Regions from separate parts of the Homo sapiens genome. Here region 1 is linked to region 2. Evidence: fine-mapped expression QTL. A gene starts in region 2. The other region holds a variant in brackets. All regions are shown on one strand. Distances are from middle to middle.

Region 1 (8,478 bases), 18 kb after region 2:
CCCCCCCCCCCACAACTTGGCCTCCCAAAGTGCTGGATTACAGGCGTGAGCCACCGCGCCCGGCCAAGGACTGTGTCTTGAGCGTCCTCGGTGCCTAGCCCAGGGCCTGACATGAGTGTTGAGTCACATCATATTTGGAGGGGCAAGTCCAGGACAACACAGCCTGGTTAAAGCGAGCGGCTGAGCACTGATACATGGGCTAGCACTGGTCGGAGATTATTCCAGACCTCACATTTCAAACATGTGATCATTTGGTAACAGGATAGCTTGAATTTTGTTCTTGACAAAGAAGGATTAAAAGGCAAAGGAAAGCTGGAAACAAGATTACAAATTCACGTCACCTAATAGAGCAGGTGTAACCAGTGTAACCCTGCCCCTAATCATCTTCAGGCCTCTCTTCAATGCTGAGCTGTCCTCAGTGGTCACCCTGGGCCTCCCAGCTCTGAGGCTGAGCGCAGGATTTCAATGCTAATTACTGATAGTACCCACTGTCTGATCAGCAGAACATCCACAGTAGAGCCTGCCCTTGGAAGGGAGGATGAATCTCCTTCTAGAACAATCTGCAAGGCTCAGTGTGGACGCTCCACTCAGGCTGGTCATGCATCAGGCATTCCCTCCCCCATGGGTGGCCCCAGGCTCATGCACACACAAGTTTGCTCCTTGCCTCACACTGTGGGGACAGAGGGCATCTGTGCCTTGTCCCCTCTTCTCTATTCTCATAAGCGTCCTTGCATCTTGGAGTCAGGATTGCTTGGGCCCAGGAAGTCGAGGCTGCAGTGACCCATGAGTGCTGGAGCTGCAGGCTGCCCCAGGGGCCTCCCCATGGTGGGCGCTCATCACACTGGCCAGCCCGATACTCATCTGGGTTGACCTCTGAGAACCGCCAGGTTAGAGGGCCTGAGTGCAGCCAGGGGACCAGCCAGGAAACCCACTTGGTCTAGGGGGTTCAGGAAACCTGTGGTCTGGGGCAGGAAGGGATGCCGAGAGGAGGCCACACCTATATGGAGGCCCAGCCCTGATCACGGTTCCAGCTGTTAGGCCGGATACCACCGCTAGCTGTTTTCCAACCATCAAATGTGAGGACCATGTGGCGAGTTTTCCATAAGGCTCTGTTTATCCAGCACAATGGAATGGCCTTTGCCCTGAGATTGTCTTCTTACTTTTTTTTTTTTTTTGGTTTAAAGATATTCTCTCAAAAAGGGAAATTGTAATTATTTTTCTAAAGGCCCTAACATGGAAAAATAGAAAGTTGGCAATCTTCCGTAGGTCTGCAATACTCCTTTGAAATTTGACCAGCCTGTGAATTCCGGATGTCTGAGAACCCCTGTCTGCATGCTCCCTGCAGAGGCCACCAGGGAGAGTTGCTGGGTCACTGCTCCCTGTTTAGAGCCTGCAGTGGCTCCCTATTGCCCTAGGATCTGCAGCCGAATTCCTTATCATGGCATCAAAAACCTAGGCAGGTGGGAAAAGAGAGGAGGAAAGGATCAAGGGCATCTTCCTGGAGGAGGTGGTATCTGAACCAAGCCTTGCAGGATGAGCTCATTGGCAAGTGGCAGGCTGAGAGGGCATTCCACGGGCAGGAGAGCACCATGTGCAAGACAAAGCTGGGGTGGCTGGAAAACAGCTGGGGGTGGTATCCAGCCAGCTAAGCAGGGACGGGGTTAGGGACGCATAGGAAACTGATGCTAGCAACACAGTGTAGGGAGGGTAACATCCAGGCTTCTAAGTGATTCTGTATTTTGAGACAGGGTCTTGTTCAGGCTGAGTGCAGTGGTGTGATCATGGCTCACTGCAGCCTTGACCTCTTGGGGCCCAAGCAATCCTCCCTCCTCAGCCTCCTCAGTAGCTGGGACTATAGGCGTGTGCCACCACGCTGGGCTAATTTTGTGTTTTTAGTAGAGATGGGGTTTCACCATGATGGCCAGGCTGGTCTCAAAATCCTGACCGCAAGTGATCTTCCCGTCTTGGCCTCCCAAAGTTCTGGGATTACAGGCATGAGCCACTGCACCCGGCCTTATTATTATTATTATTATTATTTTGTGGAGACAAGGTATCACACTAATGTTGCCCAGGCTGGTCTGGAAGTCCTGAGCTCAAGTGATCCGCCCACCTCAGTCTCCCAAAGCGCTGGGATTACAGGCAAGATCTACTGCGTCTGGCCCTAAGTGATTCTTAGAGCAGCGAGGTACATGTAATTATGTCTACTTCATATTTAAGGTTTGGAGGGAAATGAGAGAGGGCTGGGGAAAGGCCTCGAACCCCCAGGCTAGATTTTCTGCTGTCTGAGGGTCTGTCTGAGGCTGGCTTCTCTCCTTTGGTGCCCATTTCACCGCCTCACCTGGTCCCTCTTTCTTGGGCCTGAGACTGGCTGGGGCTGCTTGTCTATGGGGCCCAGGTTCTTGTGCTCTGGGGGAAACGCACCCTCGAGCATGATGCCCCCAACACTGGGGGCTGTCTCTGGTATCAGGTGGGGCCGCTGACTTCACACGTGCCAGGAGGAAAGTGCTACAGGAAGTTGTGGGTCCTTGGCAACCTCATGCCGGAGGCCCCAGGTCTGCAGTTCCAGTCTCTAGACCTCCTGATGGGCATCCTGGCCAGGCACTGTGTTCCTGCACACACCTTTCTGCAGAAAGACAACTTGCTCACTTCCCCAGAGGCTTGGGGGTGGGGACGTTCCTGTTGGACAATGGAGCCCACACACCCAGTGGGGAGCTCCCAGGAGAAGCCTGCTCCCACCTCCCAAGAAAGGCTCTGAGCCTCTTTCCAAGTACTGGAAATGCCAAATGCGGTGACCTGTCCCCATCCACCATCGTGCAGAGTGACCCACACTGGTGGGCCTTCACCTATCCAACTGTGAGGTCATTCAGTGCGTCCTGGGTGCCACTGTGCTGTGGGAATTCAGAAGTCCTTGCCTACTCGAAGCTCCCAGTCTAGCGGGTGGATGATAATATTGCCTGAGCAGGGCTACACTGTGGGAAGGATGATGATAAGGGCAGAACACTCTGAGGGCTGGTCCCAACGTGGAATGCTCAGCTCCGTTAGTCCTCAAGGCATCTCTGGAGACGGTGACCCAGACTCAGGGCTCAGGGTGACTGTCCCCAGGCCAGCAGGCTGGATAATGGCAGAGCAGGCGGGAGCTGGGGGAATGCCATCTTTACCACTACCTTCCCTGCACCTGCTGGGAGACCCCAGCTCTGGAAGTGCCTCTGGAGATCATGAAGGGCAACCTGCCTCATTGTTCAGGGGAAATCGAGGCTGAGAGAAGATGCCCCAGGCCCCACAGAGAGTCCTGTCAGAGTCCCAGAAGGGTCCTACGCCCCAGGCTCCCCAGCCAGCCATTCCTGCAAGGTGCACCCGCCCTTCTGGCTGGGCAGAAGGCACCCACGGCAGCCGGAGAGGGGGTCTTCTGGCAGGAGGAGTGGAGGTGGAATCGGGTGGAGGCACCTGGCAGCTAGGGTCGTGGGGAGCTCCTGGCAGAGTAAGTGGGGTCTCCTGGCGGCAGGGGAAGCTGGGGGAGGGGGCCTGGTAGGAGGGGGCTCCCGGCAGGGAACGTGAGGGGCTCCCAGGCCGGGCCGGGCCGCCCGCCCAGACGCGCTGCCAGGCTGATTAGCATGGGCGAGGGGCGCTGGCGCGGGGACGCCGCCGGCCGAGCTGGCACGTCCCTCGCGGGCCCAGCTGGCCGGGGCGAGACACAAAGCACCTCAGACGGTGGCGGCGCTCGGCCATTCACGCGCAGGGGCGTCCCGGGCGCGGGCGGCGAGGAATTCCCGCCGCCGGGGCGAAGACCAGCCCCGCCCGGCGCTCCTGACCTTGAACCTTTGTGACTGGAGCGCATGCAAATCGCGGCGGGGCCGCGCCAAGCCCCGAGGGCGCTGCGCCGCCCGGCGTGTCCGGGGAACAATGCGCCACTGTCCCCACGCGGCGCCGCGGGCTGGGAACTGCGCAGAATGTCAATGCGGGCCCCCGGCGCGGCGGGGCGCGGCCCACGGGCGCGTGCGTGTGCGGGTGCGTGCGGGTGTGTCCGGGTGTGCGCATGTGTCCCCGTGTTGGCCCGGGCTTAGCTGGACCCTGGGCCTGGTCCCGGACCCTGCGGCCCTGGCGACCCTCCTGGAGAGAGAGTCCCTTTGCGACCAGGTCCAAAAGATCTTAGGCCCTTGGAGGTGACTGCTTCTCCCTCCTTCCTGCCCTTCTTATTTTTCTTTTATTAGGTTGATTTTTAAAGATCCTGTAAATGATCAGTAAGGAAATAAAGGCTGCCCCCAATGACTGTCCCAACCCAGGGAGAGCTCTGCTGCGTGGAGAGG[A/G]ACTCCCTCGCCTCCTCTCTCCCCTTGGGGCAAATTCTTCCTCACAGCCCAGGGTGAACTTTCAATTCAGCGTCTTGACTTTTTCCTGGAAAATAACATTTGTCATCAACCTCTTACCAATGTCCCTTTTAAAAACTGCATGGTACTGTTCTGTGCTGTGCCACAGTCCCTGCCACTGGGTTTCCCGGTCACAGGGACAACAGCTTGTCAACAGGGTCTTCCGGGGCCGTAAGTGGATGTGCAAAGAGAAAGGACAGGGACCTCACCAAGAGCTGCTAAACTACAATGTGCTCAACTGAGCCCAGAAAGGCGCCAGGCCCACATGTGTGTCCTGCGGCACCCCTCCCCACCTGCTCAGACATGGTTTAAACAGACAAGACAGAAAAAGCACACGTGCCAGGTAGGCAGCTGCAGCTGATTTTTATGTACATGTGCCTGACCAGGTGATTCCAGCAACTTCTGTAAATTTGGATTGGGCACATTTGTGATAGGTGACAGAGCCACAACCCAGAGTCTGATGTCCCCGCCCCGCAGCTGACTGGCGACCCATCACTTGTCCTCCAGAGACTCGGTATCCTCACCTGATTAGGGGTCTGTGAGCACTGCCTGCCCATCTTGCAGAGGCAGTGGCTGTGAGGGTCCCTGCGCACACGCACACCTGTGTGGGTGGGGAGCGTGCACACAGGTTCATTTCTGCCAAGGTGCTGGGGAGCTCAGCTCTGTCATGGCAAGGGCTCAGGACAGGAGGAAGAGGTTCAGAGAAGGCGATCTTGGGCAAGATGCTCCCTGTCTGGGCCTCAGTTTCACCAGAGCTAAAAGAGGAGGTTGTAGAGACGCTCTCTAAGCATCCTTCCAGCTTCTCCAGATATACATGAATAAGATCACTCTTTCAAGGATGGGGATGGTGTACAGGGCTGGATCCTTCCCAGCCAGGGTGCCTGGGATTATTGGCTTTCAGCAGCCGACTCACGGAGGCCTCCTTTGGGCTAGGCACTGGGACAGACCCCTGCCTCCCCAAAGGCATGAGACCCTGGTCTGCCATTTGGGAGCTCAGAGCCTGGCTAGAGGCAGGAGAGGTGAGGAGGGAAGATAAGGACACAGATGGTGAATGTGGTGAGAAAGGAAGCATGAGGGGGTGGGCATGGTGCATGGGAGAACAGAGGAGGCGATGGAGGAGTCCAGGAAGCCTTCCTGGGAGGCGGTCGCCTGAGCTGAGCCTCAAGGAGTATGAGCAGCTTCTCAACAGGAGAAGAGAGTGGAGAGCACTTTGGGCAGAAAGTTGCAGGCAGAGGGAGCATTCCAGGCAGAGGGAGCATTCCAGGCAGAAGGAGCACTGCAGGGAGAGGGTGCACTCAGGAAGCAGGAGCACTCAGAGAGAGAGAACACTCCAGGGAGAGAGAGCAAGAGGGTGCAGGGTGCACTGCAGGGAGAGGGAGCACTATGGGGAGAAGGTGCACTCAGGGAGCAGGAGCACTCAGAGAGAGAGAACAATCCAGGGAGAGGGAGCAAGAGGGTGCAGCGTGCACTGCAGGGAGAGGGAGCACTCAGGGAGAGGGAGCACCCAAGGGAGAGGGAGCACTCAGGGAGAGGGAGCACTCAGCGAGAACACTCCAGGGAGAGGGAGCAAGAGGGTGCAGGGCGCACTGCAGGGAGAGGGAGCACTACAGGGAGAGGGTGCACTCAGGGAGCAGGAGCACGCAGAGAGAGAGAACACACCAGGGAGAGGGAGCAAGAGGGTTCAGGGTGCACTGCAGGGAGAGGGAGCACTCAGGGAGAGGGAGCACCCAAGGGAGAGTGAGCACTCAGGGAGACGGAGCACTCAGAGAGAGGGAGCACTCAGGGAGAGAGAACACTCCAGGCAGAGGGAGCAAGAGGGTACAGGGTGCACTGCAGGGAGAGGGAGCACTCCAGGGAGAGGGAGCATTCCAGAGGAGGGAGCACTTAGGGAGAAGGAACATTCTGAAAGAGGAAGGACACTCAGAATTCACTTTAAAGAAATCCTTTCCTTGGGCAAATTGTCCTATTTCTTTGCATTTACAGACATTCTGCCTCATGGGTAGCCAGCAGGACTAGAAACACCAACATTAAAATAAAATATAGAAGTTGGTCCAGCTAAAGGAAATGTCAGGGTGGGAAAATGAAACGGGGGAAGAGGGTGAGTTGAGTTAAAAGAAAAAAAAAAAAAAAAAAAAGCCTGCCTTGAACTCCTGAGGAGTCGCAGGTTGGGAGGCCACTAATTTCTCAGTCCCAAGATTTGAGTGCCTTTAAGGAGAAGCTGGTTGCACAAGAGATGGGCAGGTTGATTCTGGCCCCAAAAGCTGGAGGCCTGTGAGCTGCATGGCATCAGGTCCTCACCATGGCCCCCTAACATCAGGGCAGGAGGAATATGGGGTGCACCTATCAGGGGCTGGCTGAGTGGCGGCTGGGCCCTACCTGCCAGGTCTGCTGCTCTCAGAGTGGGCAAAACCAGGAGAGGAGAGGAAGCCTTGATGTGGCAGGACACACTGCATAGTGCACTCTAGGGTCTGGAGGACACCTGGGAAGGGAATTGGCTCAGACTTGGGAGTCAGGGATGGCTTCCTAGAGGAAGTGATGGTGAAGAGTTGGTCTAATTTTGGCAGGGAGGTAAATCGCTGTAAAATGGAAATAACAGCAGTACCAACCTCCCAGGGTGGGTGAGGAGCAAGCAAGCCTGAAGCACAGTCAGTACTGGTGGCCGCAGCACAGCTTCCGGGTCCTCATTTTGCTGGAAGTCTGGCTGTTCCAGAGGCAAGGCTGGGACATCCTGAGGGTGTCTGGGAGGGAGATCCAGTTCTGAATTCTTGAGTCCTTTGTACTCCTACTAGTAAAATATAACTTCTGAAATGAAATTTATGTCATGATTGATGGATCTTCACTCCCAAAGACATGCTTGGAAAACAAACAAAAGCTTAAAAGGCTGCAGCCCCGAGGTGACTGCTGTGTTGTCAGCCTCACTGACACCTGGGCACCTTGGAGAGTCGGAGCTGGACAGGGCTGTGGTTTCTGGTGGACAGAAGGGGAGACTGAGGCTCTGGGCTTCTGGTCTAAAGCCAGGATGGGCCAGGGTGAGAACCAGTCTCCCGCCTTCTCGGTCTTTCCACTACTTCACCGGATTCCTCGGATATTAGCAATGGAAAAGCCATCCCATGTTTGGGAAGGAGCGAGTCATACTTTCCATCCTGGCTTCTTGCGAACACCTGGGTCTCAGTGAGTCCCCCACCCATCCCACGCAGAAAAGCTGGGCTGCGTCACCCAGGGGGCGGTTAATGAGGATGCTTTGGTGGTGCTGACATCACGGACAGGGCTCCTGTGTGGATCGGCCGCCTGGGCTCCAGCTGGCAGCCATGTGACTTGCCCCCTTGGCTGCCATCGCCCCAGGGAGGGGCCTTGGGCAGAGGGGCTGGCTCAGTGGGCAGCTGCCAGGGCTGGTGGGGGCTGACCAGAGGGTATTGGCAAAGTCTTAGAGGTTTCCGGGCCCAGGAGAGAAGGAAGGGAGTGTGGACACTCGGCCTCTGTTTCACGGCATCCTCCCACCTTTGACCTCAGTGGTGCGAGGGGAAGGAACCAGCCCTGGAGCCGCCTGCCTGGCTTGACCCTGGCTTGCTACTCATGGTCCCGTGTGCCTAGACAAGCTGTTTCACCTCTCCAGCCTCAGTTTCCTTCTGTGTGAAATCGGATAACAATCGTAGGGTGTAATGTGGAAACTGCAGGGAATTAGGAATTAGGACGGTGCCGGGCACATAGTAAGTGCTTAGTAAACGCTAGCATCCTGGAGTCTCCCTCCCTCCACACCCAGGCTGTTTTGACCTGTGCTCTGTACTTCTGTTCGCCAGGCCTGAGGTCCCAAACTGCAAACTGCTCCATGTGGATGGGCTGGGGGCTTCCTTTCTGCCTTATTCCCTCCCTCTCTCCCTCCTTTTCTTCCTTCCTTTCTTCCCTTCCCTTCCCTTCTCTTCCCTTCCCTTCCCCTCCTTTTCCTCCTTCCTTCCCTTCCTCCTTTCTTCTCCTCCTTCTTCATCTCTCCTGTCTCTCTCTCTCTCCCTTCCTGCCTTCTTTCTGTAAACTTGATTACTGTCTGCTTCTGTGCTGGTGTCTGTGCTACTTTCTAGAGACAGAAAGTAAAATTAGACAGATATCGACTCTGTTATTCTGT
Region 2 (9,116 bases):
CCCACCTACTTGGGAGGCTGAGGCAGGAGAATCACTTGAACCTGGGAGGCAGAGGTTTGCAGTGAACCGAGATCACGCCACTGCACTCCAGCCCTGGACGACAGTGAGACTCTATCTCAAAAAAAAAAAAAAAAAAAAAGTCAGATGCAATGCCAGGGCTGTGGTGTGGGACTGTCACTGCATGAGGCATGGGGGCTGAGGTACTTGGCCAAGGGGGTTTTTCAGAGACCACCCCAAGAGTCTTCTGGAGCCAAAATATCACCCCTAATGACTTAACTGGGAGCCCCACCACTAAAGCAGGGTTTCATCATGCTAGGAAGTAATCAGAAAAGTGCAGACAAATGTTCCTGGAAGTGTTGCCTACAATGGGGAAAACTGGAAATAACTGGGAAGAACCCAAGTGCCTGATAATAAGGGGTTAGTTAAGGACCTCTGTCCAGTGGAATATGCTAAATAGTCATGAAAGTTCATTTGCAAGACAGTATCTTCTGACTTAGGAAAATATTGTGATAAAATATTAATGAAACAAGCAGAAGATAAAATGATACACCTAATAAGATGCTAATTTTGCTTAAAATATGTTTTGACAGACTAGGTGTGGTGGCTCACACCTGTAACCCCAGCACTGTGGAAAGCTGAGGTGGGTGGGTCACCTGAGGTCAGGAGCTCGAGACCAGCCTGGCCAACATAGTGAAACCCCATCTCTACTAAAAATACAAGTTAGCTGGGGGTGGTGGTAGGCGCCTGTAGTCCCAGCCACTTGGGAGGCTGAGCCAGGAGAATCGCTTGGAGCCAGGTGAATCGCTTGAACCCAGGAAGCAGAGGTTGCAGTGAGCCGAGACTGCACCACTGCACTCCAGTCTGGGCGACACAACGAGACTCCATCTCAAAAAAAAAAAAAAAAAAGTTTTGACAGAAGCTGGGTGAGGCCTTCCCAGTGGCTATCTCTGAGTGTGCTTTCATAGGTGATTGACAAATGTTTTTCTTTTCTGAGGACTCAAAGTGTTCTAAAATGAGCATGGAACATCAATGATGGCATTAAAGAAAAAAAAAAAGAATGGCAAAGACGAGGAGTTGTACTCCTTCACTGAAGCTGCCTTTGGTCCCTCCCTGGGCCTCAGCATGCGGCACGAACACGTGTGAGGGGCAGGGCTGGCTTTGTGGGTTTGTGACCCATACCACCGCACAGGGCCCTGAGCTTAGGAAGGCCCTGCATTCGGAAGGGCCCCAAGCTCGTTTTAATTCACACCATCGTCACCACCTTGTAATTCTCAGGCATTTTCAAACCAGGGGGCCACATTTTCTTCTTACCCTGGGCCCTGCAAACTCTATAGCCGATCCTGGCGAGGAACCCTGGGCCTCCGGACACCTTGACTTTTCTCTCCAGTTTCCTGAATGCCGCAGCCAGCTTTCTGGGGTAGGTTTATTTCCCATGCAGTGACTCCTTATATTTTGTCCAGGGTTTCCAAAATCAGGGGCCCAAGGACATTAACCTCAAAAAATCAAAGCATATATTGGCTGTCCCCCGGGACAGTGGCTGCCTTGTTAGGAGGTGGGTGGGGTCACTGGCACAGCCCTGGCATTGCTAAATGGGCTGTTGGCAAAAAGAGGAAACAGGGCTCTGTTCTGTAAAAACATGCGTGAGCATTTGCAGTGCTTTTTCTGGAGACTGAAATCTTTCTGTACACCTCACCAAATTTTCAGAAGTTTCTTATGAGGTATGTGTTTTCTCCAGTAAAACCAGGTGCCTCTGACTCAGGGGCACTGCCTATGGACCTGTCCTACATCTCTTTCTACCAGTTAAGGCTCAAGGATGCCTGGGTGACTCTGTCCTACGGCTTCTGCAGCCACACTGCCAGATAGGTGGTGAGCTGCCTGTCTCTGGAGGCATTCAACAAAGGCTGCACAGGAAACACCTTCTCTGGCATTAGCCTAGAGAAGCTCACCTGAGGGTGTCACTGCACAGGGTATCTGGCAGCTTCTAAGGCAGGACCTTGTCGTCTTTTCTCTCTGTGCCCAGTACTCCATACAGGAGTATAGGTGTGGGGGAGGTGTTCAGTGACTGTTTCCTTTAGGGTACGGAAACAAGTGCCAGAAGGTGGTGAGGTAAGCGATGCAAAGTTGACATGAGATGTAGGAGAGAAATTCCTGAGCTGCCCAGAAGCAGGTGATGTGCGAGAGAAGCCAGCAGCCACGGGCCCCTGGAGCAGCAGCCGCTGATACTGAGTGCCTGCCGTGTGCTAGCGGAGTGATCGATGTTCACAGCGATTGTCACCGTTCTCCCAACAACGCAACTGATACAGAACTCTTTTTGTTTGTTTTGTTTGTTTGTTTGTTTGTTTGTTTTTTTGAGACAGAGTCTCGCTCTGTCACCCAGGCTGGAGTGCAGTGGCGCAATCTCGGCTTACTGCAACCTCCGCCTCCCGGGTTCAAGCAATTCTCCTGCCTCAGCCTCCTGAGTAGCTGGGACTACAGCTGTGTGCCACCACACCTAGCTAATTTTTGTATTTTTAGTAGAGACAGGGTTTCATCGTGTTGGCCAGGCTGGTCTGGAACTCCTGACCTCATGATCTGTCTGCCTCGGCCTCGCAAAGTGCTGGGATTACAGGTGTGAGCTACCACACCTGTCTGGCAGAACTCTTATTAAGCCCCTTTTATGAGTGAGGAAACTGAGGCCCAGAGAGGTGAGGTTACCCAGCTAGAATGAGGTAGCGCTGGCAGGTGGAGGCAGGCCTGCCTCAATGCAGAACTTCCCTATAAGCCCAGGATTTTTGGTATGCTGCGACTCTACTGCCTGGGACATGAAGAAAGTTCAAGTTCAGGTTCACTTTCTGCATCCTATCTTTCCTTCATTATACCCTGGGCGGGTATAGAAGGTCCCCCAGAGGGTTTGGGGATGGGGCAGGTCAGGTTCCTCATTTTAGGGAGATTTTAACTTTAAGTGGGCTCGAGCAAGTGTTAATTACCTGGACAGTTCATGCCTGTGGAGGCCGACCCTCCCTGTGGTGCTGGGTCCATGAGATACAGACTCTCCTGCCTCCCTGCTCCCCAGATCCCCGGGGTCTCCTGCTCAAATCTTGGGCTGGGGCCAGGGTCACTAAGAAATCTGCTTTCTTTGAACACTAACCAGTTCAGGCGTACACAGGAGTTGCAGTCTCGGGGTGGGGGCATGGGTTGGGTTCAACCCCAGAGTGTTTCCTCTGTCCTGCAATGTGCTCAAATTTTGGACATTTCATGTACAAATCTGGATTTCTTCTGAAGTCAGAAGCTCTAACAGCCTCAGCCCTTATCCTCATGGCAGCAACAGGCTAGAGCCAACTGGGCACTCTGTCCCCTGCCGTCACTGCAAACACCCTCTGTGCTCCAACTGACGCCTGTAGGCTGCCCTGTGACAGCCCTGCCAGAGAGTCCAGGGACATGGTGGGGTGACCCACTCAGATTCTGGCTGGCCAGCCCTCTCGGCTTGGGTGCTCCCCTGAGGAGGACTTTGGGAGCGTAGGCACCCAGGGATGGAGGCAAGTTAGCAATGCTCTCTGGAAGGCTGGGGACCTGGCCACCACTGGGAGTAAGACCTGACAGATGGTCCCTGCTGTGGTTGGGGGCACCTGATCAAACTGGGAGGCTTGTGGAGGCCCAGGCCCAGGACAGGTCTGTGAGTTTCCAGGGCTTTGCCACCGCCGACTGGTGGGGTAGGTTTCTATCCCAGGAGTGCCCCCCAGGGATCAGACCAGTCACAGGGACAGAGGCCTTGTCTCAGGCGGAGAGAGTGGCATGCAGAGAAGCTAGCTGGAGGTATGGGCTGGGCCTGTTGCAGACAGGAATAGGGGAGGCAGCAGGGTCCCTCACCTGCTCCCCAAGGAACAGGCTCTACAGGGCCCCAGCTTCTCCTCCTCCCCAGGCCCTGTCCATGGCTGTCCTGTGACCCAGCACCTGCCAGGCTCACTTGGCACTGTGGTTGCCCCAAGCAGAGCCGACAGGACAGTTGGTGGCCAGGGAGTCTTGCTCAGGATGGTCACCCAGGACGGTCAAGGGAAGTCACTCAGGATGGTGCTGGGGGTGTGGGGGGATCAGGAGCAACTTCCACCTGAGCCCCAGGACCGGAGCATTGCAGCGGCGAGGGGCTTGCCTCCTTGTGCTGTCGGGGGTCCCTCATCCCACAGGCCCTCACCTCCTGTGCTGCCCCTGGGCAGCCTGGCCTCGGAGGGTCAACACCTGAGGGCCCGAGGGGCATCCATGCCCCCTCCTCCTTCCCTCCAGCCAAAGGTGGGGGGCAAAGCGCAGGGAAGAAAACACCAGGAGAAAACCAGAGAGCTCTCGGTTCTCTTTTAAGAGCCCTGATGGCCGCAGCGCAGAGCCCGAGGGGAGGGAAAATGTCGGGAAAGATTCTCTTCCGAACTTTGCGAGTCTTTGTTTGGGAGGCTGGGGGCTGACTTCGCCGGGGGCCGGGCCGCGGGCTCGGCCGTGCGCTCCGGTGCAGCGGCCGAGGAGCCCCGGCGCCCGCCACCCCGGGACACGCCCTCGCAGTCGAGCCCGGACCCCGACCCGGACCCCAGCGCCGCCGGGCGAGGGCGGGAGGGGGAGCGCTTACCAGATCGTCCCGAGCGCGCCGCGGTCCAGGCGGGCACAGCGCAGGGTCAAGTTCACGTCCGGCCCGCGGGCTGCCCGAGGTCCCCGGGCGCGGCTGGGGCAGCGGGAGGCGCGGGAGGCCGAGGTCCGGGTGGCCGCCGCGGCCGCCCCCGAAGCGCTGCTGTCACCCCGGCCGCGCCCCCCAACTTTCTGCACAGTCGCGGAGCTGGAAGTTTCCGGGCTTCGCGGACACGCTGGGCTGGGTTTCAGTCGCGGCTCCGAGGTTGGCAACAAAGAGGGAAAGAAGGAGGAAAAGCAGGCCGGGGAGGGGAGGAAGAGAACCGCGCGGAGGCCGCGGCGCCGAGAGCCCCAGAACTTCCAATTCTACCCAGAAGCTTTTTTCGTCGTGTTTTTCTCTTAGGTAAACAAGCAAGTTCCACGCCCCAGTCCTGCTGGGGCCTTCGCCAGCCACCGCTCTGGGCTCATCTCCCGGCGCCTCCTCGGGGCACCTGAGCGTTTTAAGCCCCACTGCCAAGTGTTTTGGACACAGGTTTTTTTGCGGGGTGGTGAGGTTGGGCACAAGATGCTTCCTAAAAGGTTGTTGGCACGCAGACCATGGCCCCAGTGACGGAGCGGTAGGCAGGGGCTTGAGGAACACGCTGTCTTTGTCTCGTCCCCAAAGCACCCGGCCGTGGGTCACCCGTGATCCCTGGAGTGGAGGGACTGTTGTGACCCCTGGTGCTCCAGGAGAAGGGGTTCCATGCTGGGTCCCGGGCCCAGGCCCACGGTGCCCTCAGCCTGCAGTTCTCCACCTTGCGGAATGATTTGCTGGCCCGGCCCAGCTCCCCGGCACCACCATTTTCTGCCCTCTTTTCCCTGCCTGGCTTCAAACCCTCCCAGGCAAGGGTCCCGAGGAGACACCTGGGCTGGGGGAGGCAACTGAGTGGCCCCAGGCCTGGGAATCTGCAAAAGTGGCCAAGCCACATCTCTCGAGACTGCAAGGGCCCTGGAGGCGCTGGGAGGCACAGATCTGGCTGCCAGCTGGGCCTGAGGCCTCCCTTTGTCCGTCCTTCCTGTTCTTCCTCACCAGGTGTGTTTACGGAGAAGACACTCCGGGCCAGGCCAGCTCCTCCAGAGCACTATTTCAGGCTGGGGAGAATGCGGATTTTTTTTTTGTTGTTGTTTTTTAAAGAAAAATGAACAAGGAGCCTGGTTGGGGATTGGGGTGGGAGGAATATTTGTCTTTTGTCCCACAAACGTGTGTGATGCTCCAAAGGGCTGGAGAACCTCTCTCTTAAGTGGATATTTTTCCCCTCAAACGACTTCTCAGACATGATCCTCTCTGAGGTTGGTCCTGGGCTTCCATACGTGATTCATGGAAGAGGTCTCAGCCCCAAGAGCCCCTGAGGGTACTGTCCACTCCCCCTGGAAACTTCCAGAACCTGACGTGGGGCTGAAGACATAGAGGTAATGGGGATGGGCTGGTGGGGCGCTGGCTGGGACAATGTGTGGAGCCCTTGTTTTCAGAGCTACAGATGCTTGTCAGCTGACAGTTCGTTTCCAGCATCCACAGTGGACCTCCTTTGGGGGAGCATTTACCTGCCAATGAACCCCAAGATCCTTTCTCAGAGGCGGCGGGATGAAGTTTTCCTTTTTTTTTTTTTTAGTTAATATATTTTATTTAAACCAATATATCCAAAATATTATCAGTTCAACATACGATCAAGATAAAGATTAATGAGATACTTTACATTTTCATACTAAATCTTTTTTTAAATTTTTGTGAGTACATAGTAGGTATAAACATTTAGGGATGAAGTTTCTTACTGTGTTTTCCCAGTAACAAGCACTGGCATCAGCTGTCATGATTTCTCCCCAAGGCCTAGGATGGTCAGCCTCGCACGCTCCACAGCAGAGTGACTGAAGCTCTATCGAGGTGTGGCACGAGCGTGTTGTCATTTCAAGAGAATCTGCAGCCTCCCTGGTTTTTAATGAAAGCTCCTATGCAGGGCCTGGCCCTTTCCTGGGGAGGGAAGGCTGGCTGTGTCTCCCGCTGCATCCTCACTGGGAACTTCATTCCTGAGCTGCGACCGCTATTTTTTGGATTGGAAAATGCCTTGGGAACGGCTCATCTTCCTGCGGCTTGAGCCCATTTGTTTTCTGACTGGTGGTCACTGGTGATTAGAGTGTGTCCCAAAGGGAACCGTCACCTTAGTTCTATCATACACTATCAATAACTTGTCCAGGGCTGACTTTGTGGCTGTGTGGCTTGCCCAGTGGTAGAGGGCCGGTGTGCAGAAGGGCCCCACACTCAATGTTTGGCTGTCCCCGGTCTTAAAATTCTTAGTCATTCTTGAACAAGGGAACCCATATTTTCATTTTGTTCTAGGCTCTGAGAGTTACATAATTGATTCTGACTTTGGCTGTTGGTCAACAGTGTCATAAGGTAAAATAAGGTAAAAATCTATGATTTTTATATTTCTTTTTTTCTTTCTTTCTTTTTCCTTTTTTTTTTTTTTTTTTTTTTTGAGACACAGTCTTGCTCTGTCACCAGGGTGGAGTGCAGTGGCGCAGTGGTGCGATCTTGGCTCACTGCAACCTCCGCCTCCCGAGTTCAAGCGATTCTCCTGCCTCAGCCTCCTGAGTAGCTGGGACTACAGGTGCGCACCATCATGCCCAGCTAATTTTTGTATTTTTAGTAGAGACGGGATTTCACCATGTTGGCCAGGGTGGTGGTCTCGATCTCCTGAACTTGTGATCCGCCCACCTCGGCCTCCCAAAGTGCTGGGATTACAGGCGTGAGCCAACGTGCCCAGCTGATTTTTATATTTCTTTTACTAAATTCTGTTTACAGAAATAATTCCAGATTCTATGTAAGATACAAATATTTTAACTGAAGATCATTGTATTTAGGGAAAATGTTCACCTTTAAGAGACAGGGGCTGGGCGTTGTGGCTCACGCCTGTAATCCCAGCACTTTGGGAGGCCGAGGCTGGTGGATCGCACGAGCCCAGGAATTCCAGACCAGCCTGGGCAACACGGCGAAACCCTGTCTATGCAAAATATACAAAAATTAGCCAAGCATGGGGGTGTGCACCTGTAACTCCCAGCTACTCCAGAGGCTGAGGTGGGAAGACTGCTCAAGCCCGGGAGGTCAAAGCTGCAGTGAGAGACCTTGTCTTAAATACAAACAGGCAGGAAGTCGTTATAAGCATAATACAATCCTGGATGTTGGAATCATCCCTGTCCAGCCTTGGCTCTGCCACGTGGGTGCTGAATGCTGCCTCAGGGACCCTGGTGCCCAGCTCCCACCTGCAGGGTGTTCTGAGGAGCCAGCACGCTGGGAGGGCCTAGCAGGAGATGTGGCATGAACCAGGTATTCGATAAATAAAAAGTGCCTTTGATTGTCACGTTTATCATTTGACATGTAGGCACAGGTGCAGTTTGATTATTTTTAATGTAAGTCTATTTTATCTCTTCCCGTTATAAAAGCAATACACACTGTGATAGACGGTTTGGAGAATTCAGGAAAGAAAAAGAAAAAGAAAAAAAATTCCTCCTAGGCCCTCTGCTCCAGAGCCTCCAGCCGTCACATGACAGTGTATTTCTTTACAATTACAGAAATAGATACGTGACTGTTACATTTTGAAACTTTTTCTTTTACCTTGACTTATTTTTAAATAGAAACACTAGTGAGGCCCCACAGAACTGAGCAGAACTAATGGCCCCCCATGTGGTGGAATAGTTCTGAGCTGGCCCCACTTTGGATGCAGCCTTCCCCGGCAAGTCTAAACCCAGTCTCTGTGGCTGCCTGTTCACAGGGACCGTGGACTGTGATGTTTACAGTACGAAAGCACTGGGAGAGAACGCTACATCACAAAGTGTCCTTAACCTGCTGCCGCCTCAGCTTTCCCATTTGTGACTTGGTTAAAAAAAATTTTTTTGACAGTTTTAAGCTCTTATTTTAATTTCCACAGGCTGTTGTAGAATCTGCTCAGCCAGGGAGGGGAAAGGAGTCGGCAATCAGGTCTCCTCCTGGGCACCTTTGTGAGGCCAGCTGGCGAGAGTGGGGGGTGACACTGAGGTCCCAGCAGCTCCAAATGCAGGCAGAGCCCTGTCCTCAGAGAAGGTCACAGCCTAGCCAAGCCCAGCCAGGTGGATGGGCCCACGGAACGCACAGGAACCTGGAACGGAGGTTGAAAGCAGGAAGCACAGTCTGTGACTCCCCAGCCCACTCTGCATTCGACCACTTGGGGCCCAGAAGCTTCAGGAAAGGTGCACAAGGTCACTGGGTCCCAGTACTCCCAACAGGAAGGTCTGGTCCAGGGACAGGGCTCTTCCCGACTCCCCTTAGCCACACGCACCAGAAGTTCTGCAGTGCCCAGTGGGCATAGCAGTCCCCAAGAATGACCCAGCACTGAAGCTGAGCCAAAGAACTTGGGGAGCGAGCCACACCCCCTCACTCCCTCTTCGCCTGCTCCAGACTTGCCAGGCGGTTGCTTTTCGTGGGAACCGGGATGTCCTCACCACCCTGTCCAGGGCCCAGCCCC

Alleles and levels. Positions count from the first base shown, and alleles are read on the strand shown. Sizes are in standard deviations (SD) of each study's normalised expression.
For the expression in skin of the gene that starts at base 4,728 in region 2, allele A in region 1 goes with a lower level than allele G (moderate effect, 0.42 SD a copy in TwinsUK).

What was found.
Region 1: its variant is fine-mapped to the expression of LINC00899 in skin (TwinsUK, PIP 0.95).

Annotation. Positions count from the first base shown.
Region 1 is chr22:46,022,885-46,031,362 of GRCh38, reverse strand. No RefSeq gene overlaps it. Among named protein-coding and RNA genes, the nearest start is that of LINC00899, 18 kb to the left of the region's middle. RefSeq lists an enhancer at 2,050-2,603. The variant A/G (reference allele first, on the strand shown) is at 4,305.
Region 2 is chr22:46,040,480-46,049,595 of GRCh38, reverse strand. It overlaps LINC00899 (long intergenic non-protein coding RNA 899), which reads left to right and starts at 4,728. Exons shown (of 4, transcript NR_027036.1): 1 at 4,728-4,987; 2 at 5,897-6,033; 3 at 6,956-7,022; 4 at 8,544-9,116. It overlaps LOC124905135 (collagen alpha-1(III) chain-like), which reads right to left and starts at 4,952. Exons shown (of 2, transcript XM_047441696.1): 1 at 4,589-4,952. PRR34 (PRR34 long non-coding RNA) reads left to right here. Exons shown (of 2, transcript NR_165243.1): 2 at 1-1,065.